3 linked regions of the Homo sapiens genome follow. The protein of the gene in region 3 purifies or fractionates together with the protein of the main gene of each other region. This does not show direct contact. Each region holds a gene or a part of one and is shown on either strand. Other genes may lie near its edges. The genes, in order: PPP2R2C, MRC2 and KNG1.

Region 1 (3,650 bases), on a different chromosome or scaffold from region 3:
GTTCCTGCGTCATTCATGTTTCTTAGAAGTCACTGCATGAGAACATCAATGCCTTGGAGCATTATTTGAAAGCATGGCCCCTGCCTGTGAAACTACAGACGCACTGAGAAGGTGCATGAGCTGTCCACTGTGCATGGGGCTCAGACGCTCAAGTGAACACAGGGTAGCGTGCTGTGGGAGCCAATATGTGTAACCACAGACTCGCCTGCCACACGTACCCCTCTGCTCATTCCCAGGCTCCCCCGTCCCATCAGATTTCGCTTACAAAACACAGGATCCAAAGTGAAATTCTTAAAAATTTCAAGATAGTAACAGCAGAACATGAACCCAAGCACAGGTCCTTCTGAGTGTGGGGACCTAGATGACCACACAGGTTGCATATCCATGAAGCCAGCCCTGGAGCAAAGCCCTGGAAAATTCCTATAATCTCATGCCAAACTAGAAAAGTAGCCTTCAAAATTGTTGATACAGACAGATTACAGTTTTCATTAAAAACAGACATGGGCATTAAAAAAAGACTGGAAGGAAATACCCCAGTTGCTGAGAGTATGTCCCTCTGCTTGGTGGACTCACAGGAGTTCACTCTCCTTCTCTTACTCCCCATCACACTCTCCATGGAGCCTAGCGCTTCATACAGCGGCTCTTCCAGTCTCAAGGCCTAAACACTTCTTACCAAACATCCCTTAGCTCTGCAAGCTTTAAGGATAAACACTAAAAAGTGTAGCAAATGACAACAGTCAGGAGATGGAGTGGAAAAATTTTATTAGAATTTGATTTTCATCTTCCAGAAAGAAAATGAGAAAAACCGTGCTCTGTGACTGCGCCAAGCTTTAAGTTCGGGTTGATTAAAAAGAAAGGAGCACATTGCTTACAGCAGGGGCGTGGGAGTTGGCCTACACTACAATTTGGGGAAATTGACAGCAGTCGCCTTTTACACGTGTAGAACTTCAGAGTCCACATGCCCTTGGCTCCTTACAGCCTCATGACAACCCAGGGCACCAGGCAGTGCAGGGAAACTGAGGCTCAGAAAGTGATGTGATTTGATGGAGGGCACCCCAGCACTGAAATGGAGCCCACACTCGCTGTGAAGCCCAAGGGAAGCTTATGTAAGTGGCGTTTCCAAACAGAAGCGAAAGGAACACAGAATCTGAACAGTCCACATCTTGATTTTCAAAAGTCAAAGGCTGACTCTCCCTAATCTCCCTCTGTGCCACCACTAATGTCCCCCCTCTTAGCCTCAGTTTCCCCATAGGTTGGGGTGGAAGTTAGGCTAGCCAGTCTGATGACAGTTCTAAGGGCTAGTCTAACTCTGGCCCCTAAAGAATAGACATCATCACTTACTGATCTATTAAGAATAAACTGAGGCTCAGAGAGACCGTGTGACCTGCCCAATATTACAGACCCAGGGTCAGACCCCACCAGGAACCCAGATCTCCCGATGCCAGATCTCAGGCTCTCTTATCTGACCAAAAATACCTCCTCAATAGGACTGAGGAGGGAAAACCAGAAATTGGCAACCTTGACTTGAGTGAAATGAAAGAGGGTTCTCAAAACAGAAAGCAAACAAAAATCCCTCTGGGTTTTATGTATCTCGAGTCTTAGCTGTGGGTTACAGATCAGCCTCCTGGTTTTCTTGATAAGCAGTCAGGGCTGTACGAGTTGGGGTGCTATGGGCTGCAAGTAACGGAGACTTGAAAGTGCACAACGAAAAGGAAAAGTAACAGCTCATGTAACTGGAAGTTCAGAGGCGGCCTGGACATCAGGCCTCTATGTCCTGGATCTCACTCACTCTCTGCCCTGCCATCAACGGTGGTGGCCTAAGACTTGCTCCCCTCATGGTGTCAGATGGCTGCCAGCCACCACAAGGTTTCCCTGTTCCCATCACAAGAGAGGGACCAACTACCTGTGGTTCTCCCTACTTTCCACTCAACCTCCAGAACTGACTCCCACATCCATTCTGGAACCAGTCACTGCAAGGGGAATGAGATCATCCTTGCACTGATCACATCCAGCTATGGCCTGAGATCTCTTACTAGGAACCATATGTGTTCTCCTTGGAAGAAGAGAGACTAACTGTTGTGGAGATCAGCTGCAACGTCCACCATAAGGGTGCAGATTTCACTGAATGCTGAGTCTCCCACAAGCAGCATCCCCTCTTCAGTGTGGTTTCCTGGGCAGAAAGTAGATGGTATCCAGGGCACAACCAGTTCAAAACCTGCAGACAATTCCATGCAGGAAAACCTGCCTGCCTGCTGCGTTCAGACAGCCTCAGGACCCCATGATGACCTTAGCAATTCCCAAGCATCCTTCACTTCCTCAACTATAAAATCAGGACAACTCTGTGGGAATAAACAGACTACTCTGAAATCACACAGGACATCCAGGGATGGGAGTTAGGAAAACATGGGTACATCCTTTATGCAGATGCAAAAAGCATGAGTGTCCAACAGTGTGTGATGGCTGAGATGCTCAAACAAGGGGAAGCTGTGCCTCTGGCCTCAGCTGAAAAGTGTGCTCCGGAAGTGCCTTACCTGTCAGGCACATGAGAGTGACTGTTGCTCCCCAGAAAGACCCAGTCACTGCCAGGATCTACCTGGTCAGCCTGAACCACCTCCCCTTGGCTGAGCTCCTGTGTCTTGGTCATCACTGCTGCCCAGGGCAGGATGTGCTTGGCAAATGGTGCTAAGCAAAGGAAGGATGGATGGGTTTTGTAAGTTCAGTCTAGTCTGGAAGTGCTTATTCAACTCACTCTAAAGCTAAGTACTGAGGCCTGCCGCAAAAAGAGAAAGAACAGAGCCAGGAAGAGTCCTTCCTGGAACCATATCCAGCTCTTGAGAAATGTCTAACTAGATGGAGACTTCCTAGCACCCTCCAGGGTCCAGGGCCCAGGGCCCAGTGCCCTATCAGCTGCACTGCTCTCCCCACACCCTGACCCCATTCATGCAAAGTTCTCTGTGCCCCCAGGTGGCCTGCAGGTACACCTAATCATCACCATAACCCTCAATGCAGTTGAGCCCAGCCAAGAGTAAGCCACCCAGCCCTGCCACCAAAAAAAAAAAAAAAAAAAAAAAAAAAAATCCAACCTGCTCTGACGAATTCACACCAAGATGTGAATGACTAACAAAACCTAAACTCTTCCTAAGATGTTTGAGATTTTACAAGAGACTCAGGAACCCAAGCAGGGCTCCCACGGGCAAAGATGACATTGGACATGGGGCCCAAAGGATGAGAAAGAGTCAGTGGTGAGAAAGGCAGGAGGTGGGTATTCCAGGCAACAGCCATTGCAAACGCCCTGAAGCAAGAAAGAAAATGGCCTGCTCAAGGAACAGGAGGTAGATCAGAGCAGCTGGGGTGTGGTGGGGGAGTGTAGACTCAACCACAGGTAGAACAGGAGTTTGTGCACCTGGTTCTTCCGCAAACTGAATTTTAGCATCCACTGTTTGCCCACAGGCTCTTCCAGTTACAAGGCATATAAATAATAACAATGCCATGTGTTCAATGCCTCCAACAACCCAAGCACTGTGCTGGGCACTTTTGATATTAGCAAAATCACTGATCATCCCAGCAACCCTGTATGAAAGGTCGTTATTATTTCTCCCTTTACAAAGGGAAAGTGAAGCTCAGGAAGGTGTAGTAACTTGTCCAAGGCT
Region 2 (3,650 bases), on a different chromosome or scaffold from region 3:
CCGTGGAGAGAAAGGCTTCTTCCAGCTGAGGGTAATCAGAAGGTCACAGGTGTGAGTTGGGACTCAGAAACAGCCCCCTGGGAAGCTGGTGCTCCTGGCAGGGAAAAAAAGCCTGAGCAGAGTCCGGGTTGGGCAGTACTGGGAGCTATGGGAACGGTAAGGAGCTCAGCTTGACCTGCACAAGCACTGAGAAGGCCGGGAATTCTTTCTTTTTCTTTTCTTTTTTTTTTTTTTTGAGACACAGTCTTCCTCTTTTACCCAGGCTGGAGTGCAATGGCGTGATCTCAGCTCACTGCAACCTCCACCTCCAGGGTTCAAGTGATTCTCCTGCCTCAGCCTCCCGAGCTGCTGGGATTACAGGCATGTGCCACCATGCCCAGCTAATTTTTGTATTTTCAGGAGAGACAGGGTTTCACCATGTTGGCCAGACTAGTCTCGAACCCCTGACCTCAAGTGATCCACCTGCCTCAGCCTCCCAAAGTGCTGGGATTACAGGCATGCACCATCACACATGGCTGATTTTTGTATTTTTAGTAGAGACAGGGTTTCACTATTTTGTATTTTTGTATTTTTAGTAGAGACGGGGGTTTTACCTGGCCAGGCTGGTCTTGAACTCCTGACTTCAGGTGATCCGCCTGCCTCGGCCTCCCAAAGTGCTGGGATTACAGGCATGAGTCACCGAGCCTAGCAGAAATTCTAAATTCAGAAAGTTTACATCGATTCAAGCTTCCCCTTAGCAGCGCTAACCTGGCAGCAATGCCAGCTCTGGACTGAGGGTGGAAGGGAAGACCCTAAGGGAGGAAACTGTGGATGTAAATTACACCACAAAGGCCGGGGGAAGAGAGTTTTCAAAAGTGTCCATTGGTCCAGGTGCAGTGGTTTGTGCCTGTAATCCCAGCACTTTGGGAGGCCAAGGCAGAAGAATCGCATGAGCCCAGAAGTTCAAAGCCAGGCCTGGGCAACATAGTGAGACTCTGTCTTTAGTTAAAAAACAACGACAGGCCAGGTGCTGTGACTCACGCCTGTAATCGCAGCACTTGGGAGGCTGAGGCGGGCGGATCACGAGGTCAGGAGGTTGAGACCATCCTGGCTAACACGGTGAAACCCCGTCTCTACTAAAAATTCAAAAACAAAATTAGCCAGGCGTGGTGGTGAGTGCCTGTAATCCCAGCTACTCGGGAGGCTGAGGTGGGAGAATGGCGTGAACCTGGGAGGTGGAGCTTGCAGTGAGCCGAGATCCCGCCGCTGCACTCCAGCCTGGGCGACAGAGCGAGACTCCGTCTCAAAAAAAAAAAAAAAAAAAAAAAAATCAGAAGATTACCCAATGAACTACTACTAATCTTCATTGGGGAATCTTGGTTGGGAAGATTACCCACAGAATCTACCAGTGGTAGACTGTGGCCTGTGCTAGTGTGTAATCAGTGTAGTGTAAGGGAGTGGACTTCACATTTTTTTGCACTTACTTGTGTATGGTTTGAATGTTTTCCACTGAGCATGCATTTTTACTTTTTTTTTTTTTTGCGACAGGGTCTCACTCTGTTGCCCAGGTTGTGCAGTGGTGCAATCATAGCTCACTGCAGCCTCCAACTCCTGGGCTCAAGTAATCCTCCTGCCTCAGCCTCCTGAGTAGCTGAGACTACAGGCACGCACCACTGTGCCCAGCTAATTTAAAAAAAAAAAAATTGGCCGGGCGCGGTGGCTCACGCCTGTAATCCTAGCACTTTGGGAGGCCGAGGCAGGTGGATCACGAGGTCAGGAGATTGAGACCATCCTGGCTAACACAGTGAAACCCTGTCTCTACTAAAAACACAAAAAATTAGCCGGGCGTGGTGGCGGGCGCCTGTAGTCCCAGCTACTCGGGAGGCTGAGGCAGGAGAATTGCGTGAACCGGGGAGGCAGAGCTTGCAGTGAGTGGAGATCGTGCCACTGCACTCCAGCCTGGGCAACAGAGCGAGACTCCGTCTCAGAAAAAAAAAAAAAAATTCTAGACACAGGGTCTTGTTATGTTGCCCCAGCTGGTCTCAAACTCCTGGCCTCAAGCAGTCTCTCCTCCCGTGGCCTCCAAACGCACTGGAGTAACAGGCATGAGCCACCATGCCTGGCCCATTCTTACAATTGAGGCCAATGAACAGCATGCATGCTGCAAGGTGAGGCCTAAGAAAGGTCACTTAATTTAGTAATTAGGGAGCCTCATCAGTATGACCCTTGGGAGGCAGTCCCTCAGACAGTAGGCTAAAGGCAACTAGAGGCAAAAAGGGGAGAGGTATGCCCAACCATCCCAGTGTTCCCTAGTCTGTCTTGGTTTTATTCCAGAGTCCCAGGAAGCTCCTTATCCTTCCCTAAATGAAGGTTAAATAGAGAAGTGTAAGGATGAAGAGGAAGGTGATAAAGAGGATGGTGATAAATTGAGGGGCTTTAGGGGGTAGGACCATTGAGGGTGGGATTTTTTTTCTTTGGTATTTCTTTTACTTTCAGAAAAACTATGATTACTTTTTGGCACTTACAGTAGTTAGCAAAGTGTCACGAAGAAGTAATGCCTCTGATTGAGGCTATTTCTGAAAAAAAAAAAAAAAAAAAAAGAGAAAAATAGCAATGAAGTAACAGGTTCAGACCTGCTTCAATTTAAAAAAAAAACAATGGGGCTGGGCATGGTGGTGCACTTCTGTAATCCCAGCACTTTGGGAGGCCAAGGCGGGTGGATCGCCTGAGGTCAGGAGTTCAAGACCCGTCTGGCCAACATGGTAAAACCCCGTCTCCACTAAAACTACAAAAATTAGCTGGGCGTGGTGGCACGTGCCTGTAGTCCCAGCTACTTGGGAAGCTGAGGCAAGAGAATCGCCTGAACTCGGAAGGTGGAAGTTGTGGTGAGCCAAGATTGTGCCACTGCACTCCAGCCTGGGTGACAGAGGGAGACTCCGTCCTAAAAAAAAAAAAAAAAAAGTTGTATCAGAGGTGTTCAAACCAGAGCAACTCCATCTTTAAAAGGGGCTGGGTAAAACGAGGCTGGGAACTCCTGGGCTGCGTTCCCAAGAGGTTAGGCATTCTAAGCCACAGGATGACACCGGAGGTCAACACAAGACACAGGTCACAAAGACCTTGCTGAAAAAACAGCACGCAGTATAGAAGCCACCCAAATCCCACCAAAACTAAAAGGTGACAAAAGTGATCTCTGGGCTAGGCGTGGTGGCTCACGCCTGTAATCCCAGCACTTTGGGAGGCTGAGGCAGGCAGATCATGAGGTCAGGAGTTCAAGACCAGCCTGGTCAACATGGTAAAATCCCATCTCTACTAAAAGTACAAACATTAGCCACGTGTAGTGGCACATGCCTACAGTCCCAGCTACTTGGGAGGCTGAGGCAGGAGAATTGCTTGAACCTGGGAGGCAGAGGTTGCAGTGAGCCAAGACCACGCCATCGCACTTCAGCCTGGGCAACAGAGTGAGACTCCATCTCAAAAAAAAAAAATGACTTGTGGTCATTCTCACTGCCCATTTTTTTATACACTAATTATAACGCATTGGCATGCTAAAAGATACTCCTATCAGCGCCACGACAGTTTACAAATGTCATGGCAACGTCAAGAAATTACCTTATAGGGTCTAAAAAGGGAAGACTCCCTCAGTTCCGGGAATTGCCCACCCCTTTCCCAGA
Region 3 (4,272 bases):
TTCTGCATCAGTAAAAAAATCTGGCAGGGTCAACGGAGAAAACAGAAGGCCCAAGAATGGCCAATACACTTACTGCTTTTGCAGCATCCTTGTACTCACAGTCCTGCCAGGTTTTGCCACTTTGAACAGGACAATCCCCCTCCTTGATTTCGTACTTGAAGGAATAAAACGTGTCAGAGCCAACCTGAAAAGCAGCCAAAGATACTTAGGGTTCATCCAACTGACCCAACAGCAAATAATTCTAGTGGGTTCCGGTAAAGTTAGGAATATTGATCTTTGACTTGAGAGCAAAGCATTCACTTAAAATATATTTATATTTCTATCATAAACATTTATGTGAAAGAATGTTTATAATATATTCACAATGTACTTTTAAAGGTTACAAAGCAGTATGCATAGTATTAGCCCATTTTTGTCAAAACTGGTTTATATATAAATCTATGTCTTTTAAAAGTCTGGAAAGATACACAGCAAGCTGTTAAAATGTTTGTCTGTCAGTGGTGAGATTATAATTATCTTTCACTTTCTTCTTCAAGCAAACATTTCTTTTTTTTTTTTTTGAGATGGAGTCTCGCTCTGTCGCCCAGGCTGGAGTGCAGTGGCGTGATCTCGGCTCACTGCAAGCTCTGCCTCCCGGGTTCACGCCATTCTCCTGCCTCAGCCTCCAGAGTAGCTGGGACTACAGGCGCCCTCCACCACGCCTGGCTACTTTTTTGTATTTTTTAGTAGAGACTGAGTTTCACCATGGTCTCGATCTCCTGACTTCGTGATCCCCCCGCCTTGGCCTCCCAAAGTGCTGGGATTACAGGCATGAGCCACCGCGCCCGGCCCAAGCAAACATTTCTAAGTGGTCTTTTTCCCCTAATGAACGTATATGACTTTTACAAATTAGAAAAAGCAAACAAGAAAACCTTAAACAAATGTTAACAGTTATCTCTGTATGGTGGAATTAATTATGGGTGATTTTAGTACTTTTATTTGGTTTATTTTGTTTCCTACTTTTTCTTTTTTAAACAGCTTTATTGAGATATAATTTACATGCCATAAAATTTACCCACTAAAGGCATACAATTTAATGTTTTTTAGTATATTTACAACCATACCCACAATCTATTGGGTACCACACCACCAATAAACTGTTGCTTGAGATCACCATGAAGCAGAATTTCTCACATGACTGTACTAGATTATGAAAGAAAATGGCTCGATTTTACTTTCAGAAAAAATAACATGTCCACTGTGTTTATTTTCCTTTATCCCCATGTTGTCACATGGCTAGTTTTTTTTTTTCTGCTAAAGTAACCAATTGCTTGACATTCCCAGAGATATAGTCTTTTATAGTGAAATTTGTTTAAACATACTCTTGAAAGATTGGTATTTCTTTGAACCATGCATCCTGCCAGGATTTGTCTCCTGCTGGAGTGCATCATTGCAATAATATCAAAAACTAACTAAAACGTTGCTGTTAAACCCAGTACATTCAGCCATACAGACTTCTGTCTAATTCCGTAGAATCACATTAACCTCATTCCTCACTCCTCTTAGACATGCCCCATGAAGTACCCCCTCCCATTAAAGGTTTGGAGTTCTATAGTTTTTAGCCTAGGGCCAGAGACCCAGTGAATTCTTTTGCTGCAGTCTAACTAAATTCCTAAATTCTCCCTCTCTACTTGGTCCTGTTGAGATTTCTCCATCTACTTTTGTTTCATTTCACCCTAGATTCTACTTCTCTGATCATCCAGGAAGCCAACCTGCCTGAGGACGAGTCATACTCTGTCCTCCCACCCCAGGCCAGAGAGTGGTATCTGTCTTTCCACAAGTTGTAAGCTTCTACCTTTGATGATCACATATTTGGTAGTGCGTGATGGTGGTGGGTGGTGGGTGGCGGTGGTGGTGGGTGGTGAGGGGTGGTAGTGGTGGTGGGTGGTGGTGGGTGGTGGTGGTGGTGGGTGGTGGGTGGTGGTGGGTGGTGGTGGTGGTGGGTGGTGGGTGGTAGGTGGTGGGTGATGGTGGTGGGTGGTGGGTGGTGGGTGGTGGTGGGTGGTGGGTGATGGTGGTGGGTGGTGGGTGGTGGTGGTTGGGTGGTGGTGGTGGATGGTGGTGGTGGTGGGTGATGGTGGTGGGTGGTGGGTGGCGGTGGTGGTGGGTGGTGAGGGGTGGTAGTGGTGGTGGGTGGTGGTTGGTGGTGGTGGATGGTGGTGGTTGGTGGTGGTGGGTGGTGGGTGGTGGGTGATGGTGGTGGGTGATGGTGGCGAGTGGTGGTGGGTGGTGGGTGATGGTGGTGGGTGGTGGTGGGTGATGATGGTGGGTGGTGGTGGGTGGTGGGTGGTGGGTGATGGTGGTGGGTGGTGGTGGGTGGTGGGTGGTGGTGGATGGTGGTGGTGGTGGTGGGTGGTGGTGGTGGTTGTGGTGGTGGTGGTGGGTGATGGTGGTGGGTGGTGGGTGGTGGTGGTGGGTGCTGGTGGTGGTATGTGTGTGTGTGTGTGAGGCCTGGACTCCTAGTGATAGTACAAATCCCAAGTGACTTCAAGGTTAAACACAATTCACTCACCGTCTTAGTGGCTTCAGTTATGCGGTACAATACAAACTGGTTGTTACTTTGGTTTTGACTGTTATATTTCTTCAGAGCAGCATCCACAGCTTTAAATAAATCCTTGTCATTGCAGTCAATTTCCTCGGACTGTGATTCCTGGGTTAAACTTAGTAGCAGCCTGGAGCAGAGGAAAAGGATGGTAATTAGTTTCATGATCTAACAATCTCCCTCTAGGAGCTGAGGGATGGTTTCACCAAGAATCAAGAGCCAACTGGGATACTGAATTTGACAATCTCCAGCCTCTTGTTTCTTCTGTCCTCCTCTCTGCCTCAGAACTCAGGGCACTGGTTGGATTCCTGCTGCCAGACGCTAGTTGCCTTGTTCCCAAAGGTTAAATGGCTCTGCTGGGTTATCCAAACATATTTACAGCTAGAACATTGCAACACTGGGGTTGTTAACCTGCTCATTTGCATTTGAAAATCACGTGGCAGCACAGTGCATATTTCCAGGTGATTATACAACTTTATGTAGCAAATCAGAGCAGAATCTGATGAAGGAGGGGAAACAAGTGCCTACTAACTCGGTTATTCCCCTGTGACTTTTGCAAAGCCATTTTTGAAGGTCACTACATGGGTAAACAATGCAAGAATGAGTACAATGTGCAGACACATTTCATACAAAGTTTCTTTGCAGGATACCTACCTGCATAGAAGCAGACTGCTGTTAATTCTATTACATGCCTAAGAAGCTCATGCACAGGGGCATCCAGTGAGTTCCAGGAGTCCCATGCAGGACATTGGCACAACTGAAAATAAAATATGGGCGTCCTATCTGCTCTCTGGACAGGCCAGCCTTTCTCTGCTCAGTTGCATTAGTTCTGTAAAAGAAAATTGCTCCCAGGGTGGAGATAGAGGAAAAGCATAGGAAGGGATGGGTTGAGTGAAGCCCTGGATTCCCTATGCTTGCTTCTTTCTGGTTTGGTGTTGTTGGTTTGGCACAGAAAAAGATAGCCCCAAATATGGCTCTTTGGCATGCCGAGTACTTTGAACTGAAAGACATTAAAAAGGCTGCAAAAGCAAAGTCTCTTTCTTGCTTTCTCCTGCCCGTCTTTCTCCTGCTCCACTTCTCTCAAGGCAGGCCACAGAAGCTAGAATTTCTCTTCCCCAAGGCGGGTCATAGAACCCTTCTCCCTCAAAGCCAGCAATAAAACTTTATTATTCTTATTTTCCTCACATCAACACAGAGTGGGGAAACTATATTACAGAATGGTCCCCACCTGTAGACCAACATTGGAAAACTACAGTTGATAATCTCAGCAGAAGTGTGAGGCTTGATGGTATCAACATCCTTACTCCAGTAAAAATTGGCCAGGCACGGTGGCTCACACCTGTAATCCCAGCACTTTGGGAGGCTGAGATGGGTGGATCACCTGAGGTCGGGAGTTCGAGACCAGCCTGACCAACATGGAGAAACCCCATCTCCACTAAAAATACAAAATTAGCCGGGCGTAGTGGCACATGCCTGTAATCCTAGTTGCTCGGGAAGCTGAGGCAGGAGAATTGCTGGAACCCGGGAGGTGGAGATTGCAGTGAGCTGAGATTGCGCCATTGCAATCCAGCCTGGGCAACAAGAGCAAAACTCTGTCCAAAAAAAAAAAAAAAAAAAAAAAATTCGGCCTATTCACTCTGCTCCTTGTTCAGACTTTATTTTTTTAAAAAGTCTGTAGAGCCATGTTCATG

The links.
Region 1: the proteins of KNG1 (region 3) and PPP2R2C purify together in Homo sapiens (affinity purification with mass spectrometry; one large-scale study listed by BioGRID and IntAct). This does not show direct contact.
Region 2: the proteins of KNG1 (region 3) and MRC2 purify together in Homo sapiens (affinity purification with mass spectrometry; one large-scale study listed by BioGRID and IntAct). This does not show direct contact.

Annotation. Positions count from the first base shown.
Region 1 is NC_000004.12:6,466,030-6,469,679, forward strand, and holds part of PPP2R2C (protein phosphatase 2, regulatory subunit B, gamma), read right to left. Parts: intron 1-3,650. UniProt on the Homo sapiens protein: The B regulatory subunit might modulate substrate selectivity and catalytic activity, and might also direct the localization of the catalytic enzyme to a particular subcellular compartment.
Region 2 is NC_000017.11:62,634,121-62,637,770, reverse strand, and holds part of MRC2 (C-type mannose receptor 2 precursor), read right to left. Parts: intron 1-3,650. UniProt on the Homo sapiens protein: May play a role as endocytotic lectin receptor displaying calcium-dependent lectin activity. Internalizes glycosylated ligands from the extracellular space for release in an endosomal compartment via clathrin-mediated endocytosis.
Region 3 is NC_000003.12:186,716,017-186,720,288, reverse strand, and holds the start of KNG1 (kininogen-1 isoform 1 precursor), read right to left. Parts: upstream 2,931-4,272; 5' UTR 2,747-2,930; coding exon 2,552-2,746; intron 185-2,551; coding exon 74-184; intron 1-73. UniProt on the Homo sapiens protein: Kininogens are inhibitors of thiol proteases.